3 linked regions of the Homo sapiens genome follow. The protein of the gene in region 2 purifies or fractionates together with the protein of the main gene of each other region. This does not show direct contact. Each region holds a gene or a part of one and is shown on either strand. Other genes may lie near its edges. The genes, in order: ERGIC1, RDH10 and RAB39A.

Evidence for each region.
Region 1: the proteins of RDH10 (region 2) and ERGIC1 purify together in Homo sapiens (affinity purification with mass spectrometry, with the first as the bait; one large-scale study listed by BioGRID). This does not show direct contact.
Region 3: the proteins of RDH10 (region 2) and RAB39A purify together in Homo sapiens (affinity purification with mass spectrometry, with the first as the bait; one large-scale study listed by BioGRID). This does not show direct contact.

The regions. Positions count from the first base shown.
Region 1 is NC_000005.10:172,931,751-172,935,401, forward strand, and holds part of ERGIC1 (endoplasmic reticulum-Golgi intermediate compartment protein 1), read left to right. Parts: intron 1-685; coding exon 686-786; intron 787-3,437; coding exon 3,438-3,560; intron 3,561-3,651. UniProt on the Homo sapiens protein: Possible role in transport between endoplasmic reticulum and Golgi.
Region 2 is NC_000008.11:73,297,451-73,301,101, forward strand, and holds part of RDH10 (retinol dehydrogenase 10), read left to right. Parts: intron 1-3,651. UniProt on the Homo sapiens protein: Retinol dehydrogenase with a clear preference for NADP. Converts all-trans-retinol to all-trans-retinal. Has no detectable activity towards 11-cis-retinol, 9-cis-retinol and 13-cis-retinol.
Region 3 is NC_000011.10:107,934,920-107,938,570, forward strand, and holds part of RAB39A (ras-related protein Rab-39A), read left to right. Parts: intron 1-3,651. UniProt on the Homo sapiens protein: The small GTPases Rab are key regulators of intracellular membrane trafficking, from the formation of transport vesicles to their fusion with membranes.

The sequences.
Region 1 (3,651 bases), on a different chromosome or scaffold from region 2:
TGGATACAGAGTGTCTCCTCCTCCCCCAATCCATGGACACATGTGTATCCTGTCCCATGACTTGGTTCTTTTCCCTGTTGGAGAATAGCTGCTCCTAGCACCCACACTTTTTTTTTTTTTTTTTTTGAGACAGAGTCTTGCTCTATCGCCCAGGCTGGAGTGCAGTGGCATGACCTTAGCTCACTGCAACCTCCGCCTCCCAGGTTCAAGCGATTCTCCTGCCTCAGCCTCCTGAGTAGCTGGGATTACAGGCACCTGCCACCACGCCTGGCTAATTTTTGAATTTTTAGTAGAGACGGGGTTTCACCATCTTGGGCAGGCTGGTCTCGAACTCCTGACTGCAGATGATCCACCCACCTCGGCCTCCCAAAGTGCTGGGATTACAGGCGTGAGCCACCACGCCTGGCCAACACTCACTCTTTCATGGTTGCTCTATTGATGGACATTTGGGTTGTTTCCAGAATTTTAATGATGTGCACAGTGCAGGAGGAAAGATCCTGATGGATAGAGTCTCCCAATTCCCGGTATCCAAGGGGAGAAGATGAAGAGCAGTTGGTTGGTGGTAAAACTGGGGAATGAGCCCCCTGCCGTGCCCAGGGAATTTAGGCTTAGGATTGAAATGACATAGAGCTGTCAGCGGGCAGTGCCCGTCCCCCTGCTTCATTCTGCTGTGTCCTTCCCGCAGCCCTGGCCTCCCACGACTACATCCTGAAGATTGTGCCCACGGTTTATGAGGACAAGAGTGGCAAGCAGCGGTACTCCTACCAGTACACGGTGGCCAACAAGGTGCGCGGGCGGTGGCTGGGCCGAGCTGTGTGCGGCGGCGCCCTCTGCTGACGGAGAGCAGAGATGACAGGCGGCTGCACCGACGCACTTTCTTCTGATTCCTTTCTGGAGGCCTTTCCTGGGGGTTAGCTTGGGCCAGGCGCTGTCCCTGGGTAAAATTGAAAAGCCCAGTCCCTGCCATGTGGCAGTCTCAGAGTCAAGGAGAACAGATCTAACCAGGAGATAGGGTGTGATGCGTTTGACAAAGAGCAGGTAGTCTCTGTCCTACAAAGGTCCTGGGGTTGCAGGTCTCAAACAGCCCTGCATCTGGTCCGAGTCCTTCAGACACAGACCCCTGGGTGCTCAACACAGACAGACACTCCTGCTCTCAGGGCACAGGCACTTTACCCAAACTCATGAGGCTACTGAGTCACACCAAGATGGCTGTTGATTAATTTGCTGTTGATTGACAGGGGTGTCCCCAGGACCCCAACACTCAAAGTCATGGAGAAGACGCCAGGCCTTAGTGGGCAGCAGAGCATGGTCAGAGTCTGCAGAGTGGGATGACCCAGCAATTAGTGGTCTCAAGACAAGACAGCCTTGGGCTTCCCTGGGGGTATCCCACCAATGGGACATGAATACTTGAAACCTGTTGGTTGAAATGCCCCTGCTAGACCCTGGCGGATGGGTTTTTCCCACTTACCACCAGGACTGTCCTTTTTCTTCTGTTCCAAGGCTGCCCAAACCCCTTATAAGTGATACCTGTTTAGCTCAGTTAATTATAACAACAGTAGGAGGCATAGCTGTCACTCATTGAGTACTTCCTGGGGGCTAGACATGCTAAGCTCTCTTCTTCCGTCTTCTCAATCATCATGACAGCTCTGATGTTGAGACTGTTATTGAGCCCATTTTGTTGATTTGACCATTGAGGCACTGAGAGGTGGTTGTAGAGCTATAAAGTGGCTGAGTGGGGATTAGAACAGGTTTTCCTTGGGCTCCAGAGCCTGGCTTCTTGATCACCTCACGCCTCGGTCTGAGGAAGGGGCTGTGAGTCTGCCCACCTGCGAGCTGCTCTCTGTCCAATGACTTAGTCCCTCTGTTCTGACTCACCCTAAATTGATGTTCCCGGGAGCCCCTGTTTCTTTTATTCACTGTTTCACAGGGGGCATCTCATTGTAACCCTCACATGCTCATAGCAGCTAACAGATGGAAAAGCACAGATGCAAGCTCAGGACCACGCTGCAGTTCAAATTCCAGCTCAGTCATTCACTAGCTATTGACCCCGGACATGTCACATAGCCACTGTGTGCCTCAGTTTACTCATTCATAAAATGGAGATGATACTTTATAAGAGTGCTGTCACATGAGGCAATGTTTTCAAAAATGCCTAGCCCACCAAAAAAAAAAAGCCTTTAGGTAAGTGATACTGACTGCTGCTATTTTTCACTCTTTTTCTCTGTCCCTCAGCTCTGGGTTGTGACCCAGACAGTCATCCTGCCCCAGCAGCTCTCCTGGAGAAAGCTGGTCTTCCCTTGCACAAAGCTCCTTTTCCCAATGCTTTGGCAAGGCCCAGCAGCCAAATACAGCTTGCTTAGCTTCTCTATGGCTGCAGCCGCACTCTGCCCTGGGAGCAGGCAGCAGCGACCCAGCGGGAGGTCAGGGCTCAGTGTTACTTACCCCCGGAGTGGCCTGGGCTCCTCAGGCTCAGCATGTGGGGTTGGGGGTACCCCAGTGGTTCAATTTGGCCTCCAGTTGTTGCAGACTTTAGCACCTTGAAGTGCCCAAACTGGAGAGATCCCAGGGATCATCATCCCAGGCCCATCCGTGTTTAGATGGGGAAGCCAAGTCCCTGAGGGAGGGAGGGGCTGGCCCAAGGATGCACTGTTAGCTCAGCCTCGTAGTATCCTTAGTCCCTGCTGTGTGCATTCTCAGGAAGGTTGGTGGCAGGGCGGGGCCTTCTGGCTTTGCAGTTCAGTCTATTCCTCTGAAGAAGCTAGCCCACTCCCCACGTGGCATTTACACCCATCACACACACACACACACTGGGACTCCTGCTTATTCATCATGTGTGGCTCAGAATGTCCCCTCCCCAGTCTCCCAGATGCCGCCCGGGAGAATGGGTCATTCATTCATTCCCCTCAACTCTCCATGTTCCTCCATCCCACATGCATGATGTCACAGTGTTAGGGATATTCTTATGTCTTCCTCCTTCTGCAGACTGCGACTCCCTCTGGGTAAAGGGCAGGACTTGCTCACCTCGGGGTCCCCAGCAGCCAGCCATGGGCCACCACAGTGGAGGCGTTCAGCAAACCATTGTTGAATAAATGAATGGATTTCGCGTGGCCCAGAGGTTGAAGGAGGCAATAGCCAAAAATTGCACTTTTCCTTTTACAGCTCTGCTTTCTAATTTATTTTCTGATTCTGGTGCTGCTTGCAGCTCACTTGGTCAATTTCTAAACAACCAAGGGTATCAAAAATGCCCAGCTGTGCACGGCAGAGTTCAGGGCCTCCAGGGGAAGGGATGTGAGAGAGGGAGTGGGGGAGTCTGGCTTCGTGGGGCAGAGAGGGAGGAAAGCCCTTTCTGGAGGGTTGCTGGGGGGCCCTCTGCAATCCAGTCCCCGCCCCCCCTGAGACACAGTTTGTACTTCTGATTCTTATATCCTCTACCCCAGGAATACGTCGCCTACAGCCACACGGGCCGCATCATCCCTGCAATCTGGTTCCGCTACGACCTCAGCCCCATCACGGTCAAGTACACAGAGAGACGGCAGCCGCTGTACAGATTCATCACCACGGTGAGTGGCCTGGGGCAGTGGGTGGGGCCCTGAGCCAGCCACCCTGCGCCTGCTCTGGGCCCCTTTCCTTGGCACCCCTCACCTGTTCTCG
Region 2 (3,651 bases):
TTCTTTGCTGGGCCCTCCTTAATGAGAAGGTTGGGAAGGGGAGAGACTTCAGTGCCAGCCTGAAAGCAACCTGTACTCTTTCGCCACAAGGTCTCCTTAGCTCTTCCCTATGGTAAACTGCAGTGTATGCTGGTTACTGTTAGTCGTTTTGTCCCCGCCCACCCCCCCGCCACCCCTAACTCAGTATTTTTGAGAGGGCAGAGGATTGAACATTTTGAACTAGTTTGAAAGATTGCCATAAAAATAACACGAAGGAGCGTAAAACCCTGGGTTTGTTTATTTTACTTTCTGTTGAGTTTATAAAACATTGGTTGTTCTTATGAATTTCTAAAGTCAGGATTTAGGCTTCCAAATTACTGCTCAGCCACATTTTGGAAAGTGCCAAAGATTCTGAAATCAACATTTGTGGTCTGTTGGGAGTGCCCAGGCCACCCTGGCAGTTACTTCGCATCTCCTGACCATCCATTGGGTCCAGGGCATCTTCCTGTTGCAGGACGCTTCGGGACTCTCTCGGGTTAGACAGTGCCTCGCAAATATCACCCTAATAGGACCCTAGAGAGGGAGGCGAGGTGGTGAAACCTGGTAAGCTGGGGATTTAAACAATGTCCGCTTCTAACCATTAAACAATGTCATGATCTACGGAGGGGAGCAGGGCCTTCTGCTGCTCTAGGGGCAAAAGTAACCCCAGTTTTTCATCTCAAGTTGTCTTCAGTAAAGGTAGGTGTGACTCTGTCCCCTATAACTGCACACTGCTGACCCACTTTATGCTCTTTTTCCTCACAGTATTTTCCCTTTCCTTTTGTAGACAGATACGATTCAATAAAGAAGGAGTAAAGAAATAGGATTCTACTTTTTTTTTCCATAGGCGGATTAGCCTTCTAATAGAACACAACAAAGAACTGTTTCTCCTAAATAGGTCACATTAAACCTCATTAATTTTTTAGCAACTGCTTAAAAACTTAATCTGGCATTAAAAGTACTTATTCAAATGTTGCACCTCAAGCATCAAACCTTTTCTCTGCTCTTGGAGGAAGCTTATTTTAATGTTTTATTTTTAAATATGAACTTTATTTATTTATTTATTTATTTATTTTTCGAGATGGAGTCTCACTCTGTCACCCAGGCTGAATGCAGTGGCGCGATCTTGGCTCACTGCAACCTCTGCCTCCCAAGTTCAAGCAATTTTCCTGCCTCAGCCTCTTGAGTAGCTGGGACTACAGGCACATGCTGCCACACCTGGCTAATTTTTTGTATTTTAGTAGAGATGGGGTTTCATGGTGTTGCCCAGGCTGGTTGCGAACTCCTGAGCTCAGGCAGTCCACCCACCTCAGCCCCCAAAGTGCTGGCGTGAGCCACCGCACCTGGCCTGTTTATTTATTTTGAGATGGAATTTTGGTCTTGTTGCCCAGGCTGGAGTACAATGGCGTGATCTCAGCTCACTGCAACCTCCACCTCCCAGGTTCAAGCAATTCTCCTGTCTCAGTCTCCCAAGTAGCTGGGATTGCAGGCATGCACCACCACGCCCGGCTAATTTTGTATTTTTAGTAGAGGCGGGGTTGCACCATGTTGATCAGGCTGGTCTCGAACTCCTGACCTCAGGTGATCCGCCCGCCTCAGTGTCCCAAAGTGCTAGGGTTACAGGTGTAAACCACTGCACCCGGCCAACATGAACTTTATTTAATTCATTTACAAACCTCTAGAAATGAATATATAAATGACCTGAGCTTATATATGTTTTAAACAAGTAAGGAAATCACCAAATACAGTTTGGGCAACTTCAGCTTGCCTGTAGGTGTGTGTTGTGTTCAGTGGGGGTGGGGAACTGAATTAAAGTCCTTGCTGTGGCTGGGTCCCCAGGAACAGGCAGCAGGTGTCAAAGGGGTGGTTAGATGAATAAAAGGCAGTCCAACCAAATAAACTTGACATAGAATTTATCAAGAATCTTGTGTGTTTATGACTAATCCTGAGTAAAACAACTACCATTTGAAATAAAAGACATACATAAGTGGGAGGCGAAGTGTCATTTTCATATTTGAAGAATGGTAAAGATGAAGCTGCCGTAAAAACTGCAGTTGATTTAAGTCAGCCCTAAACAGTTACAGCACTATCAGTAGGTTCATTATGAACCGCAGATACTGACTGGGATTGTTTTCTCCCGTAACCTTTGACTAAGATGATGCAAGACTACATAACTAAACTTTTACCTACACCAGGTATTCTAAAGTTTAGCCATCTTGCCTACTTTGTCTGCATGATTATTTTGCTTAATTGTAAAATTTTAAGTGTAATCAGGTTTTTAAGAAACCCCATACAATCTGCAGTTAAATACTTAAAACAAGAAACCAGCTCCAGGAAGACATCTGATAAAATGAATGCTAATTTAGTGTGTGTAAAGCACAGAAAATTCATAGCCTTAGCTTTGAAAATGCACATAAATTGATATACCGTCTTTCTAATATTAGGCTACTTTTTAACATAAGGAGGAAGTCAAATCAAATCTCTAAATAGAAAAATTATTCTGGACCTGAATCTGTATACCAGGGAGGAGCATAGCACCTTCCTAGAGTCATCACTGTGCTTTGAGATGTTGCTTAACCACACAATTTAAGGAGTTCTTGGAAGCCTTGATGGTAATGACGTCACTTTGTATTAAAATATGGGAGGCTCCTGAATTCTCCAGCTGTTTTTCCCCTAAGCATCTAAACTTAAGAATTTATTTTCAATATTGAGTCAGAAAATTCATTTTAGAGTTGGAATTTCTGACTTCTTGCTGAAATTTACAAATCTTTTGAGAAGTTTTGATTCAGCAACCAAAATTTAAAGGAAAATTCAGTATAGATTTTACAGTGAATTTTTTAACAGGGGTTAAGGAGTGTCACAAGAGCCACCTGAATTCAGCTTCCCTTCCAGTAGTCCTCTTATGCGAAGCGTTGGTGGCAACTTTTCAAAGATGTGTTGACGTTGGCATGTGCTGTTTTCCTTCTAGAAAAAATAATGAGTGTGTCTTTTTACTGTATCTGGGTATGGAAAAGAAGTTACCCCATACATTTTTAAAAGTCCATCAGCTGAGCAAAGAACTGTTCAGTCATTTGAACAGATCATCCTGAACCAGACATTTAAGTAACCGTTAATATCTGTTTTCAGCAGTTAATACCTGTATTTCAACAAGTAGTATGTTGATCCTGACTCAGAGCAAAAGTGAGTGAAATAGAAAACCATGTGGACTTCCACTGAAAAGCTGTGGGCACTCCCAAACCAGTCCACATGCTATTCCCTCTACCTGAAACACCCTCTTCCTCCATTCCACGTGTCTTTTAAGGTGTAGCTCAAGTTTCAATATAACCTTTCCTTCCCACTGCAGCACTTCTGGCATTTTTGGATATTAGAGTTGCAAGAATCCAGAGACCTTCTTGTTCAACCCTTTGTTTTCCAGTGAAGTTGGGGTTAAATGACTCATCTAAGGTTTTTCTTTTCTTTCCATTAATCTCTCACAGCATTTGTTATCATTCTCCCAAAGTAGATGGCAAGCTGTCTGAAGGCAGTTTATTATATACATCTTTCATTTTCCTTTGCCTGGAACAAAACTCTATTCTTTTTTTTTTTTTTTTTTTTTTTTTTGAGACGGAGTCTCGCTCTGTCGCCCAGGCTGGA
Region 3 (3,651 bases), on a different chromosome or scaffold from region 2:
ACTTCGTCTCAAAAAAAAAAAAAAAAAAAAAATAGAGACAGCCTCCCTCCTCTCCCTTCCCCACAGAATCTGGGAGCAGCCCCTAACTATTACCACTAAATCTTCCCGGCCTTTGCCTGCCTCTCCATGTTTTTTCCCCTAGCTCCTCTTCTGCTATGCATCTTTCTCCTTGCCAGGTGTCTTACTGTTACAGGAAAGGGGTCCCGATCCAGACCCCAAGAGAGGGTTCTTGGATCTTGCACAAGAAAGAATTCAGGGCAAGTCTGCAGTGTAAAATGAAAGCAAGTTTATTAAGAAAGTAAAGTGGTGAAAGAACAGCTACTACACAGACAGAGTAGGACGTACCTGAAAGTAGCAGGAGGAACGCATCCGCCCTAGGTACAATGCTTGTATATATATGAGGAGATGTGCTCTCTGCCACAAGGGTTTGTGATAAAGGATTAATTTTCTTTCTTCTTCTTTTTTTTTTTTTGGAGACAGAGTCTGGCTCTGTCGCCTAGGCTGGAGTGCAGTGGTGCGATCTCGGCTCACTGCAAGCTCCACCTCCCGGGTTCACACCATTCTCCTGCCTCAGCCTCCCGAGTAGCTGGGACTACAGGCGCCTGCCACCATGCCCGGCTAATTTTTTGTATTTTCAGTAGGGACAAGGTTTCACTTTGTTAGCCAGGCTTGTCTCGAACTCCTGACCTCAGGTGATTCACCTGCCTCGGCCTCCCAAAGTGCTGGGATTACAGGTGTGAGCCACCGCGCCCAGCTAATAAAGGATTAATTTTCTTAATTACCACATTTTGCAAGAATCGATATTATTATCTTTAAAGCAAAATTAGGAATGCCTTTGTTCTCCAGATATTGGAATATCTGGACACTCCCAAGTCTGGGTCTGTTTAGTAAACATTATTAATTTGTTCCCTTAGCCATAAACATCTAGAGGCTAGGAATGCCCAACTTTCTGGGGAACGCAGCCCAGCAAGTCCTGGCCACTTTTTTTTTTTTTTTTTTTTTTTTTGAGACAGTTTTGCTCTGTCACCCAGGCTGGAGGGCAGTGGTGTCATCCTGGCTTACTGCAACCTCTCCCTCTTGGATTCAAGCAATTCTCCAGCCTCCCAAGTAGCTGGGATTACAGGTGTGTGCCACCATACTCAGCTAGTTTTTGTATTTTTAGTAGAGACAGGGTTTCAGCATGTTGGCCAGGCTGGTCTCGAATTCCTGACCTCAAGTGATCCGCCCACCTCGGCCTCCCAAAGTGGTGGCATTACAGGCGTGAGCCACTGCACCTGGCGTCATTTTCCTAGCCCTTGCTCAAAATGGAGTCACTCTGGTTCGAATGCCTCTGACATTAGTCCCCCTCCAGCTTATTTTTATTTTTTCTTTACCCCTTTCCTCTGTCTATCCATACTGATGTTTACTTTCATCCTCTTCCCCCCACCCCATTTTTATTTTAATGTGTCTCTTACTCTTCCATTTCCTTTTAGCTTATCTTCCCTTATCCCACTGGCTTATCTTCTCTTCTCCCACTGGCTACCGCATGTGTCTGTTTTCTCTTCTGCCTCTTCCAAACATCCATATAAAGTTAATGTTTCAAAGTGATTTAATTTATGTACTCTGTTCTTAATTTTAAAAGCAAGCAATATTAACATTTTAAATTTCTTCTTAAGAGACTTTTTAAAATCTCTAAACTAAATTAGTTATTTTTGGTTTTGTTTCTTTTTAAAAAGTCCCTCATTTGATTCTCAGCTCCCTCACTGTGGTTCATGGCCTTCAAAAGAAAACGATTTTTTGTTCCTTCAGTAGAAAATGATTGGTACCAGTCTGGCAAACATGGTGAAACCCCATCTCTACTAAAAATACAAAAACAAATTAGCTGTGCATGGTGGTGCACACCTATAATCCCAGCTACTTGGGAGGCTGAGGCAGGAAAATCCCTTGAACCCAGAAGGTGGAGGTTGCAAGGTTGCAGTGAGCCGAGATTGCGCCCCTGCTCTCCAGCCTGGGTGACAGAGCGAGACTCCCCCTCCAAAAAAAAAAAAACAAATGAAGAAAATGATTGGTGGGTCCATAATTGCATAGGTAACAGAGCAGAGATGACCATAATCACTGCAGTCTACTGTAGTTCCAAGTTATTGTTAATAGAAAGGTCAGCTATAGTTCTATTATCAGGTAATATAATGTCTTAGTTAAAAGTGTATTGTAAGTAGTAGAAATCTAGCCAAATTCATTTATTTATTTGTTTTTTAGAGACAGAGTTTTGCTGTGTAGCCCAGGTTGAAGTGCAGTGGCACAATCATAGCTCACTGCAGCCCAAACTCTTGGGCTCCAGTGATCCTCTTACCTTAGCCTCCTGAGTAGCTAGGACTACAAGCACATGCTATGGCACCCAGCTAATTAAAAAAAAAAAAAATTTGTAGAGACAGGGTCTCGCTGTATTGCCCAGGCTGGTTTTGAACTTCTTGCTTCAAGTGATCCTCCCTCCTTGGCCTCCCAAAGTGTTGGGATTACAGCCATGAGCCACTGCACCAGGCCCAAATTAGTTTAATAGGGAATAAATTATAAATGATACAGATTTCATGAAAGCAAAAGCTCACTGAACATCCAGGTGTTTGGAAGTATGGAATTATTACTATTTTTTTTTTTTTTGAGATGGAGTCTTGCTCTGTCGCCCAGGCTGGAGTGCAGTGGCGCAATCTCGGCTCACTGCAAGCTCCGCCTCCTGGGTTCAAGTGATTCTCCTGCCTCAGCCTCCCAAGTAGCTGGGATTACAGGCACCTGCCACCATGCCCAGCTAGGAAGTATGAAAAATTTTAAAACAAGAGTTTGTGGACTTCCCCTCTAGTCTATTTCCCTTCTCCAACTCTGTTGGCTCCTAGCTCTCAGTCTCTGAGCCTCTTATTCAAACTCTTGAAAGAAAAAATATCTCATTGACTACTTAACTATCCAGTGAATCAGCTCCCCTGCAGTCAGGTTATTGAGTTACACAGACATATAATACAAATGTATTATAACATAAATATACTAAGTAGGTATTATGGGTCAGATAATGTAAATGTATCTGTAAAGGTCCACTTTTTTGGAAAGAGAAATTCACAGAGAAGGGAAATGAGCAGTCACCCCCAAAGTGTCTATTTTATGGTGTTTGAGAGTAAAATGGTATATAAGAATGAGATGGCCAGGCATGGTGGCTCACGCCTGTAATCCCAGCACTTTGGGAGGCCGAGCCGGGCGGATCACCTGAGGTCAGGAGTTCGAGGCCAGCCTGGCCAACATGGTGAAACCCAGTCTCTACTAAAAATACAAAAATTAGCCGGTTATGGTGCACACCTGTAATCCCAGCTACTCGAGAGGCGGAGGCAGGAGAATTGCTTGAACCCAGGAAGAGGAGGTTGCAGTGAGCCGAGATCACGCCACTGCACTCCAGTCTGGGCAATAGAGCAAGACTCCGTCTCAAAAAAAAAAAAAAAAAAAAAGAATGAGACAGCATCGTTTCTAACAAGTGCACCAGAGTGCCAAAAGATGATCTGTGTAGCCAGACATTTTTAGGCACAGTGGCTCATGCCTGTAATCCCAACACTTTGAGAGGCCAAAGCGAGTGGATCTCTTGAGCCCAGGAGTTCGAGACCAGTCTGGGCAACATAGTGAGACCTCGTCTATAAAAAA